2 separate regions of the Homo sapiens genome follow, and region 2 is linked to region 1. A link means that fine-mapping ties the variant in region 1 to the expression of a gene that starts in the linked region. Tissue or cell type: whole blood. Region 1 holds a variant in brackets; the other region holds the start of a gene. All regions are shown on one strand. Distances are from middle to middle.

Region 1 (8,235 bases):
TTCCCATCCCCCACCTCCCTCCACGCCTAAATTCTTCCCAAACCACCCCAGCCTTCGGACTGTCAGGAGGAAGCTTTGATGTGTGGTGGGTGGGAGGCCACTGGTCTTGGGTGGGCGCTGGGGGGTCCCTGCCACCCAAGTCCAGGCATCTACCCCAGGCAGGAGTTGGGGAGGGAAGGGAGCGACTGCAGCCTCCTGCTCCTCCCCCCCAACCTGTGTGCTTCTGGATGGGAGATCCCTGCCGGAAGGGGAGGCAGTGGTGCTGGGGAGTGGGCCGGGTGGGAGGAATAGGCTTGGGGAAGGGGGACCCAGGAAAAGTGTGGTCCAGACCAGGCCTAGCCCCTGAGGGTAAAGGATCTTGCCGACCGAAGGGGGCTGAGGGTTGGGGGTGTATTTACCATGGTGAGAGGCCATGTTCGTGTTCCTGGATGCTTGCATGTGTGCATGTGTGTGTGCACGTGCATGTGTGTGTGCATGTGTGTGTGCGTGTGCATGTGTGTGCTTGCAAAGGCCTGGGACTGCTGTGAGTGTACAGCTGGGTGATGTGCGTGTGTCCCCGCGAGTCCACACCTGTGCCCACAGCTGTGAGGGAGCAGCATATGGCTGCCCCCAGATTGTCCAACCTGGGCCCAGCTGGGACCCCACTTCCCTCTCGTGGCAGAAGCCTGACCTGAACATCTGGCCCCATCTGCCCACAAGAAAGGGAGTCCCAGAGCACGTGTCAGAGCTAGAAGGGCCCAGGCCTCCTGCCCCAGTGTAGGAGCAGCCCTTCTCAGGGTCACAGGTTCCTCACCTGTGCAAGGGGTGCCTGTGGAGTGGACACTGTGGTCCCCGTGGTGTCTGCCAGAGGCCTACCACCCAGGGCAACCAACTCGTCCAGGTTTGCTGACCACTTTCTTGGTTTCAGCACTGAAAGTCCCATGTCCTGGGACACCCTCAACACCCCTGCCAATCCCAGGAAATCGAGATGGCTGGTCCCACTTGCCAGGGACACTTCTCTTTCCACCACATCCTTCCCCCTGCTACCCCTGTCCCTGCCTCCCCCCACCCCATCTCTGGAACCTTCTCTGAAGGTTCTTACTTTCCCCTTTGCTTCCTGTCTTGTGCCCTCTTCCTCCTGCCCCTTACTGTCCCCAGGGTCTCACTCCGTCTCTCTCTGGCTGCAGGGGTCTCTTTCTCTCTGCTCCCCTCTCTTCCCTCTCTGTCTCTGGAGTCTCTGTCTCTCTCCTCTCCTGCCCTCAGGATCGTCCCCTGCTTGGTTTCTGGGGTCTGTCTCTCCATTCTCTGCTCACTTTGGTCTCCCCCTCCACCACCGGTGTCTCCCTGTCTCTGTCTCAGGGTCTCTGGCTCGCCACCTTCCCTGGGTGGTCCAGACCTCCCTCTTGTCTGCTGGCACCACACTCCCACGGGGCTGGCTGGGGTGGAAGCCAGGTCTGGGGGCTGTGACCAGGCCGGGAAGGGGAACCCAAGCAGACATGGTATTTATGTTAGGACTTCAAAGTGGGGCAGAGGCCGCAGTGGGGGTGGAGGGGTGGAGGGCGGAGGGTGGAGGGAGGGAGGGAGGTGCTAGCAGAAGCCAGACTAAGGTCAGCACCGGCCCCTCCCAGCTGAGGGTCTCCTTGGTGACACACACCTCCCTGTGGGACCCTGAGACTCGGCGTAGGGACAGAATGGACTATTTTTGTGCAGAGTTCCAAGAAAGGCACTTCCTGCACCCCCGCCCTGCCCCCAGCCCCATCCTTTCTTCCTGTCACCCTGCAGCTGGGTCTGGGCGCTGCAGGCCCCACCTCCTCTGAGCATCAGCCTGGCCTGGGAGACAGGGGTTCTGAGGGTGGCAGAAGCACAGGGCTCGATCTCAGCAGGAAAACATCCCTGGCATGGGGACAGCCCGTGCGTTCCCGGCTCTCTGGCAGAGGCCTCGCCTGGCAGGGCTGTGCGGGGCTGTAACCCAGTTGGCCCCAACCCAGCCAGGCGGACCCAGCCCTTTGGGGCCTCTGAGCTGTCAGCCTGAGGGCCTGAGGGGCCAAAATGGGCCAAGAGGGTCACCACACCCCTGCCCCCACCCTTGGCCTAACCCCTGCTAAAGACACCCAGCTGCTAGGACCTGGAAGGCGTGGGGTCAGGGGCCCTGGCCCTGGGTGGGGTGGGTGGGAAGGGCCGATTGTCTCATCCTGCGGCTCAGCTGAGCCCCGAGCCCCTCCCAGGGGCTGCGTCCAGCAGGCACCCTTCAGGCTGGGCCACCCCCTCAGGAAGTCCTCTGCCCCCAGACTCAAGGCTCGCTCTGGACCCAGGACCCTCTGGTCCAAAGCCCATTCAGGCCCCAAATGCCCCAGCCCCTGGGCCAGTGTCTCCTCCAGGGTCCTCCCCAGGCTCTTCCTGTGAATCACTCAGGCTGGAATCTGATGAGCTCAGGCCTCCCCACCCAGCGTTGCCTGCCTCTGCCTCCTGCCTGGCTAGTGGGGTCACCACACCCCTCATGGGGGTCTTTTCCAGCAACCCACATCTCCCACCAGGGTCTAGCATGGGCTGGGGTGGGTGAGTGGTGGTGGGACAGGACAGGGCTGGAGTGAGGAGACTCGGGAGAGGGCTTGGACCGCTTCTGTGTGCTCCAAAGTATAAAAGTCTGTGTGTGTCTGTGTGTGTGTGTCTGTGTGTCTATGTGTGTGTGTGTCTGTCTTTGTGTGTCTGTGTGTCTGTGTGTGTGTCTCTGTGTGTCTATGTGTGTCTGTGTGTGTGTGTCTCTGTGTGTCTGTGTGTGTATGTCTCTGTGAGTTTCTGTGTGTGTCTTTGTGAGTGTGTCTCTGTGTGTGTTTGCACTTCAAATGCTTGGAGAGTGGGAAGGGGCAGCCGTGTGCTGTGTCTCGGGAGAGTGTGCGCCGTTGCGTCTGAGTGGGGGATGGAGTGTGCCGGTGGCAGTTCTGCACAGGTAGGTCTAGTGCATCATGGGATCCCAGTGTAGGTGGTCACCATGTGTCTCTGTGTCAGCCTGTCCCCATGTGTGTGTCCAGGAGTCACACTCTGAACCCAAGAACAAGGGTGCTGAAATATTTCAGTGTTTGCAGATCCAGGGATGTCTGAGTGGGTGGCTGGTCTGTGTCAGGGTGTGTCTGGGAGGAGGGGCGCCAGTGTGTCCCTGCACCCCATCCCGCAGGAGTGAATGGCTGACAGTGTCAGGGTGTGCCTGTTAACCCTGGGGGTGCCCCAGGGTTGTTGCACGTGCCCGTGGCTGGCAGGATGTGCACCCTGTGTGGGAATGTGGGTCAGACAGTGTCACTGTGTGTTAATTGTGGGTGTGAACATGGGTTGCAAGGCCATGGCAGGGTGCTAGATGCTCTGTGTTGAAGGTGTGGCAGGGTAGGGTGGGTCTCAATGACTGCCTTCTGCTGCAACCCTTTCAGGCCACCAGTAGGCCCCTGGTTCCTAGAGCACACTGGCCCACAGAACCAGGGATATGCAGCCCTTCCCTCACCCCCCATTCGCAGGGTCCCAGGGACCCACCACTGGGTGCTTTCCTCCTAGCAGCAGGCTGGGAGCACTGAGTCCCCTGGGTCCTCCGCCTCAGCAGAGGGGACCCTGCACGTGGCCAGGAATGAGGTGCGCTCTGCCCCCTGGTGGCAGCAATGAAGGATGCGCCACCCTGCAACCCAGGAAAGCGGAGGGACAGTTTAGGCTGCGTCTTTCCGAATCAGTCATTCCACATAGATTCACAAGTGCCAGTTCCGGCCCGGCCATTGTTCAAGGCCCTTGAGATTTAACTGCGAACAAGGTGGGGGTGGCTCTGGCATTCTAGTGA[G/C]GGAAACAGACAATAAACTTGCATACAGAACCACCGTGACTTTAGGAGTGATAAGGTCAATGCTTCCAAGTAAGGAAATGACCCGACTGCTCTTTCATAGATCCAAACGTCAGAGTTCCAGTCTTGCCCTGCAGCAGCGGACGCTGGGCCAGGCATGTCACCTCTTGGAGCCTTGGCTTCTTTTTCCATAAGGACAAAGGCTGGGGAAGGGGTGGCATGGAATCCCTAGGACACAGTGAGCTTTCAGTTACCACCCAGATCACGCCATGCAAATGGAGAGATGTGACCTATTTCCCTTTGGCTGGAGCTGGGGGCGCTTGGTGCTTGGTCTATAACAGACACTTCTGTTGTTGTTGTTGTTGTTTGATTTTTTTTTTTGGAGTCTTGCTCTGTCGCCCAGGCTGGAATGCAGTGGTGTGATCTCAGCTCACTGCAACCTCCACCTCCCAGGTTCAAGCAATTCTCCAGTCTCAGCCTCCCAAGTAGCTGGAACTACAGGCGTGAGCCACCTTGCCCAGCTAACTTCTATATTTTTAGTAGAGATGGGGTTTCACCATGTTGGCTAGGCTGGTCTTGAACTCCTGACCTCAGGTGATCTGCCTACCTCGGCCTCCCAGAGTGCTAGGATTACAGGCCTGAGCCACCTTGCCCGGCCTATAACAGATGTTTGATAGATGTGCTGAGTGGACATATAAATCAGCCCCTCTGCTTTGAAGGACTACAGAACCTGGTGTCTGAGCCCTTTGTCCTGTAACAAGGCACTTTCCCTGAGCAAGTCTGAGTTTTCTCATCTGTAAAATGGGGCTAGTGAGACTGGTCTTACACTGGCCTATCATTGTCTGCCTTGCCTGGAGGCTCTGCCCCAGGATCATAATCTTGTTGATGCTGATTTGGCCTGGACCCCTGACCAATCAGTTTCTTTTTTGTTTTCTTTTCATTTCTTTTTTTTTTTTGAGATGGAGTCTTGCTCTGTTGCCCAGGGTGGAGTGCAGTGGTGTGATCTCGGGTCACTGCAACCTCTGCCTCCCGGGTTCAAGTGATTCTCTTGCCTCAGCCTCCCCAGTAGCTGGGACTACAGGTGTGTGCCACGACGCCTGGCTAATTTTTGTATTTTTAGTAGAGACGGGGTTTCACCATGCTGGCCAGGCTGGTCTTGAACTCCTGACCTCAGGTGATCCACCGGCCTCGGCCTCCCAAAGTGTTGGGATTACAGGCGTGAGCCACCAGGCCCAGCCCAGAGTTTCTTGAGAAGAAAAACCACAAGACCCAGGCAGCAGCTCCCTGTGGTGCCCCATCACTGGGGAGGGCAGGGAGGGGGTCAGGTCATGCTGAGCCTGGCAAGGGTGGGAAGGGCTTGTAGAGGCCCCAGAGCCTCATTCCCATGAGGCCAGTTGTACATCCGGCCCCTGGGATCCTCCGAGCACCCTCTACAAACATTCCAGGTCCTTCCTCTGGGACTGAGCTTGACACATCCCGTGTTTGATTCCCAGAACCGAGTCCTCCCTTATACTCCCCAGGTTTCTGCCTCACTGTCCCTCACTCCTGGTTATCAAACTCCAATCAGTGAACAACATTTATTGAACACCTATGGCATTTGTGCTCAGCATTGGACTGTGTGAGGCACTAGGGGTGAGTGGTGAAACAGGGAGGGGAATAGAAGAGCCAACGGGACACTTCCTATCAGCGAGAACCTTGGGAGGGCGTGGAAGTGGGGAGGGAAGAGCTGCTGGTGGCCTAGTGACAAAAAAAATGGGAGCCGTGCAACTGGGCTGTATCTGGACTGCTCATCTGAAAGTCAATGTCTGGCTGGGTGTGGTAGCTCACGCCTGTAATCCCAGTACTTTGGGAGGCCAAGGCGGGCGGATCACCTGAGGTCGGGAGTTTGAGACCAGCCTGGCCAACATGGGGAAACCCCGTCTCTACTAGTAACACAAAAATTAGCCAGGTGTGGTGGTGCACACCTGTAGTCCCAGCTACTCGGGAGGCTGAGGCAGGAGAATCACTTGAACTGGGAGGCGAAGGTTGCTGTGAGCCGAGATGGCACCACTGCACTTTAGCCAGAGCGACAGAGCAAAACTCCATCTCAAACAAACAAACAAACAAAAAAACCCAAAAAGCCAATGTCCACGATTTCTACCTCCCAGTTGTCATGTCTGACATTTGGGCTGACGTCCCCTCTGTGCTCAGTGCCCGAGGAGAGAGCCTCTGGGGTCATCCTCCATAAGGGGACAATTCCTTCCTTCCTGGGGATGGCCCCCAAGAGGCTGGCCTTACCCAGACCCCAGAATCTAAGGGACCTGGGGGCCAGTGGCCTTGGCCCCTGCGCTGTCCCCAGGTTGCCTGATGCTGCTGGACTGCAAGGCCCGGGACCCCCTCTGCTGCTGCAGCCTTGGAGGCGCCCTCACCCCTGGGTGGTCACCCTCTCGGCAGATTCCCGGGCCGTGCACACCCCCTCGTGGTTGGTGGTCGGCACTTTTCCTTGTTTGGATTTGCTGCCTGCTCTGGGCTTCCTTGGGGGCTGCCCCGGCCTTTGTGGGTGGCTTAGAATGGAGGGTGGAGTTGGAACCTGATGCCCTGGTTTGGGCGGGGGAACCCTTAAGGACTTGCTATATGACATCCTGGGAGTCACTTTCCTGACCCTCAGTGGGCCCAACAAGTCATGGCCAAGTAAAGCTTTTGTGAGGGCCAAGAGTTTAGTGCAGAGAGCATGGTTTCTGAGCCCCCTCTCCATTCTGGAAGCTTATCTGCCAGCTGGTGGATCTCCCCAGAGATGCTGGAGGGCCTGGGAGGACTCCAAATCTTGGGGAGAGACTGTAACTTGGGTACTTTCTCCCCAGGGCCTGATTTCCAGGGGAATAACCTCCCTGAACTGGGCATCAGCAGGTGGGAGCCCTGTCTGGCAGAGAGCGGACTCCGGGAGAGAGTTAGCAGCCCAGCTCTCTCCCTCCCTTTCTGCCATGAGCTCTGCTTGTAGCAAAATCACCCATTTTGATCACTGGGACACTTCTGGGAGCCGAGCAGGGCAGCAATAGTGTCCCCACTTTACAGATGAGAGTACTGAGGCTTGCAGGTGCAGGTCCTTCTGGTGTCCAGGACAGGGGTGGGCCCCAAGCCTTTGCTGCTGTTCTGTGGCCTCTCTAAATCCTCCTGACACCTAAGAGCCATTGGAACCTTTTAGGGTCTGGAAGTCCCAGCCTGGTGGGAGATACTTGGGTGGAGCCCTGCCTCAGCCATGCCCATGAGGGGAAGGGTAAAAGGAGCTGAGACCGTCACCCTCCCCACGTCAGAGGTTGGGCATCTGTCGGATTCGCCCCCACTTGGCACACCCTCATTGCAGGCTGGCTCACCCTCAGCTGGGGGAGAAGAACAAGAGGCAAGGGGCCTTGGGCACACAGTCTGGGGGCCCCCGAAGCCCCCTCATCTTTATTCCAGTTCCTCAGATGTGGCAGTTCCCCCAGCTTCCCTGGAAACAAGTATCAGACAAAGGTGGTGGCAGACACAGGACAGGGCCCTGGGTGGGGCTTGCTGGCGCTAAAAGGATTTCTCAGCAGGCTCAGGGTCTCCCGCCCCGAATGACCCTTCTGGCCACTTCAAGCTACTCCTCTGCTGCCCGGCTTCCCTCTGCCTCTGGTTCCCCTGGCTGAGCAGGGCCTTCCTGGGCTTGACCCTGGCCCCCTTCAGCAGTTGTCTCAGACTGTTCCCGAATGTCCCTGGGGCTGGCTTTGACCCCAGCATCCCCATCTCCCTGGCACCCTTGCTCCTCCCCTCTGCTTCTTGCCTCTGACTGCCCACTGCCCTCCTCCTCTGTCACAGCCCCCTGGGTCTCAGGCCACTCCGCCCGGCGGTAGACGAGGTAGCCAGTGGTGGGCAGCCTGTGGGCCAGGGCCCCAGGGGGCAGGCGGTGGTAGCCCTGCTCCTTGTACAGGAAGAGGCCAAAAGTGTTGGGCTGGGTCACTCGGAACTTGGTGGCACAGAGCTGGTTCAGGGTGGCAATCGAGGCTTCTGGGGGCACGGCCAGGGTCTTGGAGGTGCAGCCACTGCTGGGATCCTGATAGGCTACTCGGAGGAGGTGCTATGCAGGAGGAGAAGCAAAAACAAGTACTCAGCCCCGGCTGGCATGCATCTGGCTCCAAAGCTGAGACATCAGCTTTCTGGGCTGTGCAGGGACAGGGTGGGTAGGTGGAGATCCAGTGGGAGAACCAAGCGGCAAAAGCTCTATGTGCTCCAGGGGTCGGCTTGTGGGCCACAGCCGCAGGTGCAAGGACAGCCCAGTGGGGCGCTCACAAGCCTGAGATGAAGATTTGATAGTGAGTAATTTGTGCCCCAAGCACTCTCCTGCATTAACTCATTTAATCTTCACCTCAACCCCAGGAGGTAGGTCCTATTACCCCATTTTACTGATGAGAAAACTGAGGCACGAAGTAGTTAAGTAACTCGCCCAA
Region 2 (4,435 bases), 43 kb after region 1:
CATTCATTCCACGGGTATTTATTGAGCGCCTACTGTCAGCCAGGCTTTGGCCTAGGTGCTGAACAACTGCATTCTCTCTAGAGCACATAGCCTGCCACTCCTCTGCTTAACCTCCTCACTCCTCAACACCCCGATTCATGCCTCCCTATTGCCTGCAGGGCAAAGCCCCAAATGGAACAGCTCTTCAGAATCAGATCCTAGTCTCCCTTTGTGCCCCATCTTCTGCTCCATCCTGCTAAGCTCCAGGCAGCCCTGGCTGTGGATCTCCCTCTAAACAGGCTGATCGTCTCTTGCCTGCCTGCCTTTGGCATGGCTGTCGCCTCGGCCTGGAATGCCCTACTGACCACACCCCTCCACATGCACTTTGCCTACCCTACTCCCAATTTACAAATCTCCTCTTCCATGAAGCAGAAGGAACTTTCTCCCTCCCCTGGGGACCCACTGCACTCTGCTGCAAGCCTGGAATGTCACGCATCATGTTACATTATTAATAGCTCTTTGGCCCCCTCTTGCTCTCAAGCCCAGGGGCTGATTCATCTCTGGGTTTCCAGGGCCCAGCACAGAGCCAGTACCCAAGAAGCATTTGCAAAGTTGTTGCAGTGAATACAGATGAATAACCCGGTCCCAAAGACAATGCAAACCCCACATTTCTGCCTTCCCTGAAGAGCCTCCCTGCTGTTTCCTCCTGTGTCCCCAGTGCCTGCTCCACAGTAGATGCACATTAAAAGTTTGTTGAATGAGGCTGGGCACGGTGGCTCACGCCTGTAATCCCAGCACTTTGGGAGGCCGAGGCGGGAGGATCACGAGGTCAGGAGATCGAGACCATCCTGGCTAACACGGTGAAACCCCGTCTCTACTAAAAATACAAAAAAAAATAGCCGCGCGTGGCGGCGGGCGCCTGTAGTCCCAGCTACTCGGGAGGGTGAGGCAGGAGAATGGCGTGAACCCGGGAGGCGGAGCTTGCAGTGAGCCGAGATGGCGCCACTGCACTCCAGCCTGGGCGAAAGAGCCAGACTCTGTCTCAAAAAAAAAAAAAAAAAAAAAGTTTGTTGAATGAATGAGTGAATGAATGAAATTCATGGTATTTCAAAGAAAATCAAACGTTCGATAACCGACTTTTGGGGTGACTGACTCAGGAATAACGACACACAGAGAGGGGTGGCAGCGCCTTTGCTCATTCCAGACCCTGTGGGCTGGTGGCCTTGCCCCTCTGAGATGTGGGCATTGCTGAAGTTCTACTTTCCTAGCCACGGGGGAAGCATTCCCCTCTCCGAGCTTCAGCCCATAATGAGCTCAACGAGGGGTCACAGGTGCGCGGTGAGGAAGCGCCCGCTAAGCTTCATCCAAAGGGCTGGAGGGAGGGGTGCTGGCTGTGGCCACGAGGCTGCCACGCCGCCAGGAGTCTCACCGGGATGGCGGTGATGAAGAAGTTCCAGGGAAGGAGGGTGCCCAGCCCCAGGATGAAGAAGCTGATCCCGACCAGGTGGTAGCTGTGGGGATCGGTGGGAAGGTCACCCCGAGGACGCACCCGCCTCCGCAGGCCCTCCCGCCTCCCAGGCCACCCCCTCCGGAGCGGACTACAACCCCGATCACCCCGGTTCCGGCGGCCGAGGGAGTCGGCTGATGGGAATTGTAGTTCGATCCGGTCTTCTCTGAGCCTCGGAGCGCCTTCAGGGAGCGGGTCTGCAACGCCCCCGGCCACTTGCAACGCACCCGGGCCCACTCACCTGTCCCGCGGGGCGTCTCCTCGCGCCATGGCCGCCGCGGCGGATGCGCCTGGGGTGAAAGGGGCAGAGAAGCCGCACCTGCACCTGCGCTGGGGCGGAGGGCCGCAGACCGGTGGGGCGGGGGGCGGGTCTCCCCAGATTCCGGTGCAGGGCGGCTGGAGTCGCACAGGTAGCCTCGGGCGGATTTCGGCGTGTCTCGCGCTCCGCAGGCTGGGACCTGGGCTCCGCCCCGAGGCGGGGACAGAGGGTCGCGCCACCCGTCTCTCCTTCCCCCACCCGCCTCAGGGACTCGACTCTGGCTCGGGCCCCGCCCCACCTAGGGGCCTGCGGAACCCGCCCGCTCCCCGCACAGCCCCTCCCCGCAGCCCCCCGTCCTCTCCGCGGGGGCGGGTCCCGGATCCCTGCGGCGGAGGGGAAGGCGGGGGTAGGGACGAGGTGTAACCTCACCTCCACCCCCCGCCGAGAGCTCTGTAGGGGCAGCACTGGTGCGGGGCTCTTCCCGCTTCGTCAGCTCCGAGGTGATGCCAGAGCCGCTCCTGCGACCCCTAAAGCTGGAACCCACCGGGGCGCCCCCTAACTAGGGAGCCGCTGCGGAGTCCCCGCCCAGAGCGTAACCCGAGCCGGGCCCGGGCGGGGGAACCAGAGCTGCCACAGGTCGCCCGCGATCCTGGCGGGCTTCGCCGCGCTGGGTCCCCGGGAGTGCCTGGAAAAAAACAGCATTACTTTCAACTCCCTACTCTTTTTCTGTTAAAAAAAAAAATTTGAAAAGACTATAAATCATTAATTTGCTCCTACTCTCATAATCTACGAATAGGTGTGGGTTCTCTGCAATCCCCGGGCGTATCGGGGACGCTGGAGAAGTGAGAGGCTCCAAAACACAAACTAGTTTTTTTGAGACTGAGTGTCGCTCTGTCGCCCAGGCGGAAGTGCAGTGGCGTGATCTTGGCTCACTGCAACCTCCCCCTCCCAGGCAGGTTCAAGCGATTCTGGTGCCTCAGCCTCAGGAGTAGCTGGGACTACAGGCGCATGCCACCACGTCCGGTTAATTTTTGTATTTTTAGTAGAAACGGGGCTTCACCAGCTCTACTGAAGAGGTGGCCAGTCTAGTCTCGAACTCATCTTTTGACCAGGCTGGTCTCGAACTCTTGACCTCAGGTGATCCGCCCGCATCGGCCTCCCAAAATGTTGCTATTACAGGCGTGAGCCACCACGCCCGGCCACAAACTATTTTCTTAAGCAATGACATTTTATAGCCATTCCCAGGTTGCTTATGTTTTTCCTCCAGCCGACTGAGAGTCTGTAGGGGCAGAGGCTGTGCTTATCTGGTCCATTGGTTTACTGGCAGCATCTAGCGCCGTTGAGTGATAAATGGGTGGTTGCAGTAAAATGCAGGTGATTTTAGGGAGAACAGAGACAGCATTAAATTACACCGAAAGAGAAAGTTATTCTTCCCATTTTCTTTCAAGCCTCTGAATATGTCAAGGGTGTTAACAGGTTGCTAACACTTCTTAATCTGCCTTCCCATCCCTTCCCCTCAGTTAGCCTCAGAGGGTCTGCTGACAATTTTATCAAAAGTTATTAACTTGTATTTTTCTTATATTTATTTTTATAGCAACTTTATTTTCAGGGCTACTCATACTGGTTTCCTATTTATGATTATGATATCAACTTTTCTTTGAAAAATCAATTTATTTATGGAAAATGAGTTATTTAAAGAAAAGCGAGGCCGCTGGTGCAGCACAGCTATGGCACAGGTTGTGAAGGAAGGACTTGAGAATGGAGGCTAGGGAGCACTGAATTTGTTGAGACAGTGAAGGGAGAGGATGAGGGCATTTCAGGGAGAGAACAGCCTGTCCCAAGACAAGGGACAAGAGAGTGCTGACACATTCTGGGACATACAAATAGATCCCTTTGGCTGGCATTGGTGGGAGGAGGGGACAGAGCCTCTACAACAGCCAGGCTGGTTATGGCAAGTCTGAGGGCTGATTAAGGAGTTCAGATTTCATTTCAAAGCACAGACGGTCAGCTGGAGCCGATTCCATCGTCCTTGTAATAAATATTTTGTTACTATCCTGCAATGAAACTCATATAAAACAAAACCTACCTATACACAATAACATTTGATGTCGAGATAATATCCTGATTTTACTGCAGATGAATCATAAGGGAAATTATTTAGTAATAACATGGTGTGTGTGAATGTGTTAATATTCATGGTACATGAAGCTGTCAAATGCTTGCCCTTCTTTCTAAAACTGCAGTGAATCCACGGCTACAAACTCACATGCGATACAGGCATGCAGTGAAACTGGCCACTCAGAGACCCACTAGTTTGCCAGGATTTTCTTTTCTTTTCTTACCTTTTTTTTTCTTTTCTTTTTCTCTTTTTTTTTCTTTTTTTTTTTTTTTTCAGACGGAGTCTCTCTCTGTTGCCCAGGCCAGAGTGCAGTGGCAGGATCTTGGCTCACTACAACCTCTGCCTCCTGGGCTCACACGATTCTCCTGCCTCAGCCTCCTGAGTAGCTGGGATTACAGGCGTGTGCCATGATGCCTGGCTAATTTTTGTATTTTTAGTAGAGACAGGATTTCGCCATGTTGGCCAGGCTGGTCTCGAGCTCCTGACCTCAGGTGATCTGCCCGTCTCAGCCTCCTAAAGTGCTGTAATTACAGGCATAAGCCACTAAACCCAGCCTCTTTTCTTTAAAAAA

The links. PIP is the estimated chance that this variant, and not a neighbour inherited with it, causes the effect.
Region 2: SLC29A2 starts here. The variant in region 1 is fine-mapped to the expression of SLC29A2 in whole blood (TOPMed, PIP 0.95).

The regions. Positions count from the first base shown.
Region 1 is chr11:66,324,888-66,333,122 of GRCh38, forward strand. It overlaps RIN1 (Ras and Rab interactor 1), which reads right to left. Exons shown (of 10, transcript NM_004292.3): 10 at 5,354-7,865. The coding sequence ends at 7,389. Among named protein-coding and RNA genes, the nearest start is that of RIN1, 7.4 kb to the right of the region's middle. RefSeq lists an enhancer at 1,410-2,159. The variant G/C (reference allele first, on the strand shown) is at 3,794.
Region 2 is chr11:66,369,836-66,374,270 of GRCh38, forward strand. SLC29A2 (solute carrier family 29 member 2) reads right to left here and starts at 1,925. Exons shown (of 12, transcript NM_001532.3): 1 at 1,728-1,925; 2 at 1,409-1,490. The coding sequence starts at 1,756. RefSeq lists a silencer at 1,621-2,380.